Homo sapiens: one gene and its partners. The protein of the gene in region 1 interacts with the protein of each later gene in a pairwise test. Each region holds a gene or a part of one and is shown on either strand. Other genes may lie near its edges.

Region 1 (3,653 bases):
AAAAAATCTGAAATTAAACACTCAGAACTGCCCTCAGTAGTCACATCTAGGGAGAGAGGAGGGTAATGCTGTTCCATGCAGAGGTAACTGACAATACTTGTTTTCTAAGGTAGGTGCATGGATACACAAACCAAAATATGCATTAAGTATGTCTTGCTCATCAGTGAAAATGTTAATATCTAACAGAATGACACACTTCAAGAAAATACAATGGAAACGCTAATATCGTACTCTTGGCACACTAAGAAAAATGACGCTCAACTTTTCACTGTTGTGAACACTTGCTTTCACTTGCTATGCACCTGATGACGAGGGGTCCACAGCCATGCCCATGTTCGTGAAAGGTCACCACGTTCTGCTTCTCATCATGGGCATGTGTCATATCCCCAAGGCTGAGGCAAGAAGAGAGAAGGAAAGTAAGTGGCAGTGAGTTCCCACCACGTGACAACTCAATCTCAACTCCTCCTGACCTGCAGACCCTGCACACTCCGATTCTGCCCTATCTCAGGACCTGCACACACCTTCCACGGTTCCTCGAAGTGAACCATCTGTTCATGCCACAGTGACTTCCTCGCCTGGGCTATCAATTCCTAGGCTAGAGGAAGGTGTGGCCCGCATATCAGGGCTGACCTGGGGTTTGGGACCCCACAGCATCCTGGGTAGGGAGCATCCCTGGATATATACAGGGCAGGGAGTAGAAAGAGCATGGGAAATCTCATCATTCAGCCTCAATGCTGTACACTAGAAAATTATAAGAAGGGAATGATTTGGGGAGCAAGTGACAGATGGGATGCCAGTATCATAACAGAATAGCACATCTGCAGGGATGCAGGGGATGAGTGGAAGGTTCTCTTACGGAGTTACTCATCATCTTCCTCAGGATCGCTGATCTCTTCATAAATCACCAGCTGCTTTCTCTCACGCAGTCTGTGGGTCCAGGCATGTTCCCCCCTTTTGGGTCCTATGATGGAGAATAGTTGGAAAGTGAGGGTTGGGTAGGTTGGAGAGTGTTAGGCTCTGTTTACTCAAAAAAAGGAGATGCCTGCTTCCTCCCAAGTGCCCATGGGCCTTCTTTATCCAGTTTTTCACATTCTCTGGCTTAGAGAGGCTGAGACCTTAGACCCACACCAATATAGGCCAAATGCCAATTAAAGTTTTAGCTTCTGGCTCCTTCCCTTCTCAGGCTTAGATTCCCAACCTCTTCACTTACGGGAACATTCCCCCATACCTAATTTCATACAGCACGTATTTGTTAAAGCCACACAGGCATACCTTGTTTTGTTGCACTTCATGTTCATACTGCTTCGCAGATGCTGCAATTTTTTTTTTTGGAAATTCTCACCAATTTTACACTTTTCCATTATTATTATATCTGTTATAGTGATCTGTGATCAGTGAGCTTTACTATTATTACTAAAATTGTTTTTGTTGTTTTTTAGTGTTTTAAAATAATTTTTGTTCTTTATTTTGTGGGTACACAGTAGGTGTATATTCTTATGGGGTACATGAGATGCTTTGATACAGGCATGCAATGCATGATAATCACATCATGGAAAATAGGGTATCCATCCTCAAGCATTTATCCTTGCCTTACAAACAATCCATTTATGCTCTTTTAGTTTTTTTAAGTACAATTAAGTTATTATTGACTATAATCACCCTGTTGTGTGTAATTGTTTTGGGGGTACCAGGAACTGCACCCATAGAATATGACAAACTTAATCGATTAATGTTTTGTGTCTTCTGACTGCTCCACCGATGAGCTGTTCCGCGTCTCTCTTCCTTTTCTTGGGCCTCCCTATTTCCTGAGACACAGCAATACTGAAATGAGGATTATTAACAACCTTACAATGGCCGTTAAGTGTTCAAATGAAAGGAAGAGTCGCATGCCTTTCACTCTAAATCACAAGCTAGAAATGGCTAAGATTAGTGAGGAAGCATGCTGAAAGCCAAGACAGGCTGAAAGCTAGGCCTCTTGCACCAAACAGCCAAGCTGTGAATGCAAAGAAAAGTTCTTGAAGGAAATAATAGTATATAATGCAAAGGAAAAGTTCTTGAAGGAAATAATAATACTAATACTCCAGTGAACACACGAATAAGAAAGCAAAACTGCCTTACTGCTCAAATAGAGAAAGTTTGAGTGGTCAGGATAGAAGATGAAACCAGCCACAACATTCCCTTAAGCCAAAGTCTAATTCAGAGCAAGACCAGAACTCTCTTCAAATCCATGAAAGCTGAGAGAGGTGAAGAAGCTGCAGGAGAAACCTGTGAAGCTAGCAGAGGTTGGTTCGTGAGGTTTAAGGAAAGAAGCCGTCTCTATAACATAAAAGTGCAAGGTGAAGCAGCAAACCCTGATGGAGAAGCTGCAGCAAGTTATCCGGAAGATCTAGCTAAGATCACTGATGAAGGTGGCTACACGAAACAACAGATTTTCAATGTAGATAAAATAGCCTTCTATTGGAAGGAGATGCCATCTAGGACTTTCATAGCTAGAGAGGATTGAGTTCAACTTTGAAAGGAGTTCTACTGTGGGTAAAATGCTATCCAATAGCATCACATACTACAGAGAAATCCTTCATGAAAGGGAGAGCTAATCGATGTGGCAAATTTCATTGTTGTGTTCTTTTAAGAAACTGCCACAGCCACTCCAATCTTCAGCAACCACCACCTTGACCAGCCAGCAGCCATCAACACCGAGGCAAGACCCTCCACCAGCAAAAAGAGTGTGACTCACTGAAGGCTCAGAAGATTGTTAGCATTTTTAACAATGAATTATTTTAAAATTAAGGTATATACATTTTTAGACATAATGCTATTGCACACTTAGTAGACTACACTGTAGTGTAAACATAACGTTTTATGCACTGTCAAACAAAAAACAATGTGTGTGACTCACTTTATTGCAGTGGTCTGGAACCGAACCTGCAGTATCTCTGAAGGACACCTGTATTGGGTAACAGGCATTGAGCTGAGTAAGATATGATCCCAGGTTATCACAGATAGAATCGCTTGAGCACCTTTCATGTCATCAGGCCTTCTAGATTAAATTTAATGTCTCCAAACAATTTATGAACTATGATTCTTTATTTCCATCTTATGGACTAGGAACCTGGAGCTGAGGAAATTTGGAAGACTTTCCTCAAGTCACGTGGTTTTTTTTTATATGGATGACAACTCCAGTCTGTCTCTGGAAGTCATGTCTAACATCTCATCTGGAGCTGGGCAAGCTCCTCAGCCCAGCCTGGACCCAGGGTTATCTGGGATCCATGCCACACACCCAGTCCACACACCTGAACGTCGCCAGGGAAGCCAGTGGGATTGTTCCTGAATTGCTTCCTCTTACCAGATATCATGTTAATCTTCTCAGAGGTAGTTGGTTTTCCCGGGGGGCACAGCTGTTTCCCATCGTTTTGTGGGCCAGATGCTTCTGGCACTTCCTTCGAAACATTTCCTTCCTCTGCTGGCTTCTTGGGCATGATCTTTATAATGTGAAGGTCATAGATAAATAGTATCAGTGACATTTCTATAGTGCTTTTGAGCTTACAAAGGGTCTTCACATGCATTAGCTTATTCAATGTTCTCAACAACACTGGGAGAGTTACACAGGCCTAAATTAGGAGAAACCTGGGAGGGGAGGTTAGAAGGGAAAGGAA
Region 2 (3,653 bases), on another chromosome or scaffold:
ATTTTTGTCAATTATAGCTTAATAAAACTGGGAGGTAAAAGTAAGTTAAATAAAGATGAAGATAGAAACTTAAAATGGAACATACACACAGAAAAATACCACCTCCTCAAATCTACGCCCATCCAGCCTGAGCTTCCCCTTCAGACACAGTGAAGAGGCTGCCTTCCACTGAGACCCCTAGAATGGCACTGCCATCTGTGTGGGCTCCTGGCCCCGTCCTTTGTTCCACATAGCCACTCCTGCAGCTGCTGTTTCCTGCAGGCTTTGTATTCCAGGTCTGAAAGGCCAGGGACACTGGCCTCTGGGGTTTGCTTTGATAATGACTTAACATGTGACCTGGGGTTAACCAGTAGACTATAGCACAGCTCTCCAAGTCTTAATCTGAGAAAGGAGTACCTTTTGAAACAGAGCTCATTTTTACATGGCTGCACTGTTGGCAGGGGATGTGGCTCATGGCAGAAGCCTGAACAAAGGGTAGTTTCCAATTCCAGGAGAGAAGAGTGGCAGAGTCCCTGGTAGCCCAAAATAAGGCTGGTGAGATGGTCCCAAAGCCACACTTTACATTTTGTATGAGGGTCTTTAGGACACTGTGTCAAATGCTCTTTCAGGAGTACCTACAGTGGTAACAGTTTTTCTTTTTTGTTTAATTTCTGTCTTCAAATTGACAAAAAAAAATTGTATGTATTTACAGTGTACAGTGTAATGTTTTGATATCTATACACATTGTGAAATGATTAAACCAAGCTACTTAGCTGGGCATGGTGGCACACCTGTAGTCCCAGCTACTCAGGAGGCTGAGGTGGGAGGATCCCTTGAGCTCAGGAGTTCTGTTCCAGCCTAGGCAACCTAGTGAGACCAGTCTCTTAAAAAAAAAAAAAGTCAAGCTAATTAATATAATGCATTACCTCATATACCTATCCTTTTTCTGTGTGTGGTGAAAATACTTCAGATCTACCCTCTTAGCAATTTTCAAGTACACAGTACGTTGTTACTGCCTATAGTCACCATGTTGTGCAATAGGACTCCTGAGTTTACTCCTCTCATGTCACTGAAATTTTGTACACTTTGACCAATGTCTCCCCAGTCCCCTCATTCCCTAGCCTCTGGTAACCAGCATTCTGATCTCTGCTTCTATGAGTTCAACTTTTTTAGAGTCCACATTTAAGTGAGAACATGCAGTATTTCTTTTTGTGTCTGGCTTATTGCTCGTAGCATGTCTTTCAGGTTCATTCATGTCGTCAAAAATGACAGGATTTTCCTTCTTTTTTTATGGAGTTCCACAGTAATTCTGATTGCCAACAGCCCTTACTTTTTTTTTTTTTTTTTTTCATTTGAGACAGAGCCATGTTCTGTCACCCAGGCTGGAGTGCAGTGGTGCAGCTGTGGCTCACTGCAGCCTCCATCTCTCAGGCTCAAGCAATCCTTCTGTTTCAGCTTCCCAGTTTTTTTATTTTTAATAGAGATGCGGTCTCCCTATGTTGCCCAGACTGGTCTTGAACTCCTGAGCTTAAGCAATCCTCCCACTTTGGCTTCCCAAAGAGCTAGGATTACAGGCATGAGCCACCACATCCAGACCCTAAGAGTCCTTATAGATTCCTCAACTCTACGGCTTTTTCTTTTTCTTCTTCTTTTTTTTTTTCTTTTTCTTTTTAAGAAACAAATACTCTGTGTTGTCCCTGCTGGTCTGGAACTCCTGGGCTCAAGTGATTCTCCCACCTCAGTCCCCAAAATAAGAATAGCTGAGATTACAGGCATGTACCACCACACACGGCTGAACTCCATAGAGTTTTAACCTTTATTTTCCCATAGTTTGGATAACAATGCTGAGGTCCGGGGACCTACCCGAGGTGAAAGAGTTCATTTAATTGACCGTGCTATCATGAACCCAGGCACACTCTGTTACAGCCCCCCTTGTTATATCTGGAAACAAAGTCGCAGCAATCTTTGTGGTTTACAGAGTACTTTTCATGTGCGTCATTTTGTAATCCTCATTTTACAGTTAAGAACAGAGACTGGGGTTTTATGAAAAGCACCATGAAACAGTTCCCTGTTGGTGCCTCTCTTGTGATTTTCTTTGCTACCAAAATGGAAATGAAGAGCCGCAGGAAGCTCAGAAGGTATCAGCACCAGGCCTGGCCCTGGCCCACTTTAGGACACCATTTTCTGATCTCTTTCAGTTCTGCAAGATGCTTTCCTTCTTCAGGAAGAGAATGTGCGGGACACACAGCAGGTGACCACCCTCCAGCTACCCCCGGTGAGTGGTTTCTACAGGAGTCCTTGAAAATCCCCTGTTTGCCTCTGTAGGCTACAGGGCAGCTTTCTTAGGACCCCAGCCAGCTTTCTGACTGCCACACAGGATGTTCAGTCCCAGCCCAGAAAAGCTAAAATAGGCAGAGCGTGAGCTTAAGAGACGCCCCATTTCTCCTCCTTCCCTGTGGTCCCAGCCGCCCACTGGGTCTACTGTCATCAGGCCACCTTCAGGAAGCTTTGTGCAGACGATAGCAGGAAACAAAGGCCCATGAGTCCCCATTGATGGGCCTCTCAGCATGTCTAAGTTCCCCTCTTGTGAAAAAGGAGATCTCTCTGCTCTTTTATTTTACAGAGAATTTTTCAATTTAATAATCATCGCAGCAATGGTTATATTTTAGAAATGTTAGGAAGTGGAGGGAAGAAAGCACAGATAATTTCAGTCCTGTCACAGATCTACGTGGTGAGTCATTCCAGAATTTCCTCGAATGTTCTCGTTCGTGTTTTTGTGTAAGACTTGCTTACTCGGGTGCTCTGAGGAGTCAGAGTCAGGGCTGGGGGCTGGTCCAGCAGGTGATCTTACTCGCCTCTCTCTAGCCCAGTTGCTGTCTTTGGCCATGTTTTCTGGCCATATCTCCTTCACTTTCCCTCCTAACACTTTCCACTGGCTGGCACAAGATTTAGTTATGACAGCATCATCCCCTCCCATGGGAACAGGATGTGTGGCTCCTGCTTTTGTTTAGTTGCTCCTTACCCAACAGAAAACTGTGAAAAACAGTAGACACTCTTATTACCATGTCTCAGCAGAATGTCGGAAGCTGAGCAGTTTGCTTTCTGCACAGTTCATTTGACATGACTTTATTTTATTTTTATTTTTAGAGACAGGGTCTTGCCTTGTCACCCAGGCTTCAATGCAGTGGCACAGTCGTAGTTCACTGCAGCCTCAAACTCCTGAGCTCAAGCCATCCTCCCACCTCGGTCTCCTGAGCAGCTGGGACTACAGGTGCATGCCACTACACCCAGCTAAGTTTTGTATTTCCTTGTAGAGACAGGGTCTCGCCATGTTGCCCAGGCTGGTCTCAAACTCCTGACCTCAAGTGATCCTCCTGTCTCAGCCTCCCAAAGTGCTGGGATTACAGGCATGAGCCACTGTGCCCAGCCAACATGACTTTAAACTTGGAGAAGGGAGGGCTAGGGATGGGAAGGAGTTAGCCAGGTTACCCAGTTAGGGGGCATCTCCATAACTTGCTTTTGCCCCACCAGAAATGTGGCACACGCCTGTTTACCCTGATGCTCAACACATACATGTCAGCATCTGCTGTGTACTGTGACCATTTCCAAACACAAAGGAGGTAAAACCAGTATTTCTTATTAAAATTTGGACATTTAACCAGTATAACACATAA
Region 3 (3,653 bases), on another chromosome or scaffold:
CTGGCTTCAGCCTCCCGAGTAGCTGGGATTACAGGCGCCTGCCACCACACCTGGCTAATTTTTGTATTTTTAGTAGAGACAGGGTTTCGCCATGTTGGCCAGGCGGGTCTTGAACTCCTGACCTCAAGTGATCCGCCCACCTTGGCCTCCCAAAGTGCTGGGATTATAGGTGTGAGCCACTGTGCCTGGTCCATGTTTTCTTTATCCATTTGACTATCCATGGACATTTGAGTTTTTCCCCCTTATTGGCAATTCTTCTGCCTCAGCCTCCCAAGTAGCTGGGATTACAGACGTCTGCCACCACGCCCAACTAATTTTTGTATTTTTAGTAGAGACGGTTTCACCATATTGGCCAGGCTGGTCTTGAACTCTGACCTCAGGTGATCCACCCTCCTCGGCCTCCTAAAGTGCTGGGATTATAGGCATTTATTTACCGTTCTGCTTTCCCTTTGCTAGCAGGAATTTTCTTTCTCTCTCTCTCTCTTTTTTTTTTTTTTTTTTTTTTGCTTTATTGGGAGAAAAAGTGCTTAGAGTGTTCAGTTATTTTTTATATTTTTCTAATTCATTTCTTCTCTGGTTACAAATCAGTCATGCATGGATGTTTTATTTTTTCTGAAATCTCCAAGCACTTTAAGCAAAGGTTTTTATTAGCCCACTTGAGTAGTGTGTTCATGGGAGTATACTTCCATTGCGAAAGAAGTATTGGTTTACTTGTATCCAGAAGTTTTAGTTACTCTTGCCTGTACTGTATTCTAGGTCTGTACTAGCATTATAATTTTCCATCTTTCTCCTGTCCTTTGAGTACCTTATTTTTTCTTTTAGAAATTTGGTTTGTCTTTAATGGACTGAGAGGAATCTTTTCCTTTCTTTCTCCGGGTTCTGATTTTTTTTAAAGGTCTATTAACAATTTGTGCTTACTGTTGTTAGTATTCTTGTGTGCTTGGCTTTATCAGGCATCCTACAATGTAATGTTGGTTAGATGGGAATTAGAGGTGCTTGGAGGTTGGCTATGTCTGCCAACAGGCAGGAGGCCCCAAACTAACGTTTCCCAGTTCCATTAAAGGTTTCTAGAGCATAACTACTCTTCCTGTTTCATCTACCCCCTCCATACCCTCTTTGCTAACATTCTCAGTAGATCTTAATAAGCAGATGTCTGGAATTACAGCAGATTTTACCTCAAACAGTATTTTCAGATTTAGAATTTCTGTATCATTTTTAGGTGTTATGAAATCCAATCTAGGTGTAATGGAGTAAGAGAGTAAATATTTCTTTTTCCTAAATACTATTTGAAAAGAAGTCTGAAAATAGTGTGTTCCTCCACCCCCCCACCCATGCCCATCCTGCCAGTTTAGGAGCACTTTTGATTCTTTTTTTTCTTTTTCTTTTTTTTTTTGAGATGGAGTTTCACTCTTGTTGCCCAGACTGGAGTGCAATGACACAATCTCAGCTCACCACAACCTCTGCCTCCTGGGTTCAAGCGATTCTCCCGCCTCAGCCTCCCGAGTAGCCGGGATTATAGGTATGTGCCACCACACCTGGCTAATTTTGTATTTTTAGTAGAGACGGGGTTTCTTCATGTTGGTCAGGCTGGTCTCGAACTCCCGACCTCAGGTAATCCACCTGCCTCGGCCTCCCAAAGTGCTGGGAGCGAGCCACCATGCCTGGCCATGGAGCACTTTTGTTTCTTAATCTGGCCAATATTTTAAGGTTACAATTAGAATTACAGTTGTTTATATTTGTTCATTTAATGTAGTCAACATAATTTCCATACTTTGAACACTCTTACGGAATTGTTTATTTATAGAGACTAGTATAAAGTTGTTCTATCTTACTTAGTTTGAACTAATCCAGAGTTATACAATCTAGAAAGTAAAGAAAGTTTTTATTGTCTCTTAAATATCAATGTAATTGTAGAGTGTGAAATAATTTCTTGGGTTTCCTTGGTCCCGTGTTCTTCTGAGGCAGTGGTTCTTAACTGAGCAGTCACGTTAGAATCACCTGGGAAGCTTTTTAAAAAAAGAATCTGGGCTGGGCGCGGTGGCTCACGCCTGTAATCACAGCACTTTGGGAGGCCGAGGCGGGTGGATCATGAGGTCAGGAAATCGAGACCATCCTGGCTAACACAGTGAAACCCCGTCTCGACTAAAAATACAAAAAAATTAGCTGGGTGTGGTGGTGGGCGCCTGTAGTCCCAGCTACTCGGGAGGCTGAGGCAGGAGAATGGCGCGAACCCGGGAGGCGGAGCTTGCAGTGAGCCGAGATCGTGCCACTGCACTCCAGCCTGGGCAACAGAGTGAGACTCTGTCTCAAAAAAATAAAAATAAAAATAAATAAACAAATAAACAATCTGGCCGGGAACAGTGGCCTACGCCTGTAATCCCAGCACTTTGGGAGGCCAAGGCAGGCGGATCGCCTGAGGTCAGGAGTTCAAGACCAGCCTGGCCAACGTGGCGAAACCCCATCTCTACTAAAAATATAAAAATTAGCCAGGCGTGATGGGCACCTGTAATCCCAGCTACTCAGGAGGCTGAGTCCGGGAGAAGCACTTGAACCCAGGAGGCGGAGGTTGCATTGAGCCGAGATCGCGCCATTGCACTCCAGCCTGCAGCCTGGGCGACAGAGCGAGACTCTGTCTCAAAAAAAAAAAAAAAAGAATCTGTGCCTCACCCCTAGCAATTCAATTCTGTTTGGGCTAAGCCTGGGTTGGGACTCAGACATCAATACAGCTCTGCATAGAAGGTTTTACAGTATAGTCAGCAATAAGAACCTCTGTTTCAGGATAAAATGATTTCTACAAACATTGTTTCATTCTCTACATAATTAAATGTCACACCTCTACAGTCATGTGAAAGTTCCATTAAAAAGTTAGTCGCTATATAAAGTCTTTTATCATATGGCACTTGAAATATTTTGCTTTTGCCTTTGTATTTATAGCCATGAGTAAGTAGCTCAAAAAAGATGTACATATTCCTCTGCCAACTTTCCTGTCTCCTTGTCTGAATGAAAATTCATCATAAAGTCTCAGTGGTAAGCATTGACAGAGAAAATACCTAAGACTGTTTTCCTACAGAAACAGTCGTCTTGCTCTTTTTGTTCCTTTTTTATTAAGGATTCTTACAGCCTGAGAGAATGAAGAGCTGTGTAGTCCAGGATATCCGGCTGGCTACCATAGATCTGAGAGTCCAGTCTAGTACAGTAGATTTTTCTAAATACATAAGAATCAAAGATATGTATTGAATATCAAGCCAGCTTTAAACAAACATAGATACTAGTATAAAGTTGTTCCATCTTAATTTGAAGTAATCCAGAGTTACTACAATCTAGAAGGTAAAGAAGGTTTTTGTAATCTCTTAAATATCAATGCTAAAACTATTATGATAATGTATCACTTTGATAACAGATAAAACTTTTAAAAATGTAGCACTCATATTTTGATTCTGGTATTTATAAGTATAATAAAATACTTTATTTTTCCATAATTTCTCTCACATCTTAAAATTCTCACCAGAAATTCTCAAATGTAACTTCTAAGCTCTTTCTGTATTCATGGGAAACTTTAGCTATTTCACATACTAGAGAAAATAAAATAGACAGTCAAAGAATGATGAGCAAAGGCTATACAAAAAGTCTAGCTAATAATTTGCAGAGTAGGT

What was found.
Region 2: the proteins of SSX3 (region 1) and ZNF496 interact in a two-hybrid assay, tested with the Homo sapiens proteins (one large-scale study listed by BioGRID and IntAct).
Region 3: the proteins of SSX3 (region 1) and ZBTB25 interact in a two-hybrid assay, tested with the Homo sapiens proteins (one large-scale study listed by BioGRID and IntAct).

What each region holds. Positions count from the first base shown.
Region 1 is NC_000023.11:48,346,644-48,350,296, forward strand, and holds part of SSX3 (protein SSX3), read right to left. Parts: intron 3,480-3,653; coding exon 3,344-3,479; intron 2,945-3,343; coding exon of another isoform or gene 2,898-2,944; exon of another isoform or gene 2,754-2,897; intron 1,806-2,753; exon of another isoform or gene 962-1,805; coding exon 861-961; 3' UTR 857-860; intron 393-856; 3' UTR 1-392. UniProt on the Homo sapiens protein: Could act as a modulator of transcription.
Region 2 is NC_000001.11:247,321,755-247,325,407, reverse strand, and holds part of ZNF496 (zinc finger protein 496), read left to right. Parts: intron 1-2,177; coding exon 2,178-2,254; intron 2,255-3,653. UniProt on the Homo sapiens protein: DNA-binding transcription factor that can both act as an activator and a repressor.
Region 3 is NC_000014.9:64,497,307-64,500,959, reverse strand, and holds part of ZBTB25 (zinc finger and BTB domain-containing protein 25), read left to right. Parts: intron 1-506; exon of another isoform or gene 507-1,519; intron 1,520-2,967; exon of another isoform or gene 2,968-3,027; intron 3,028-3,653. UniProt on the Homo sapiens protein: May be involved in transcriptional regulation.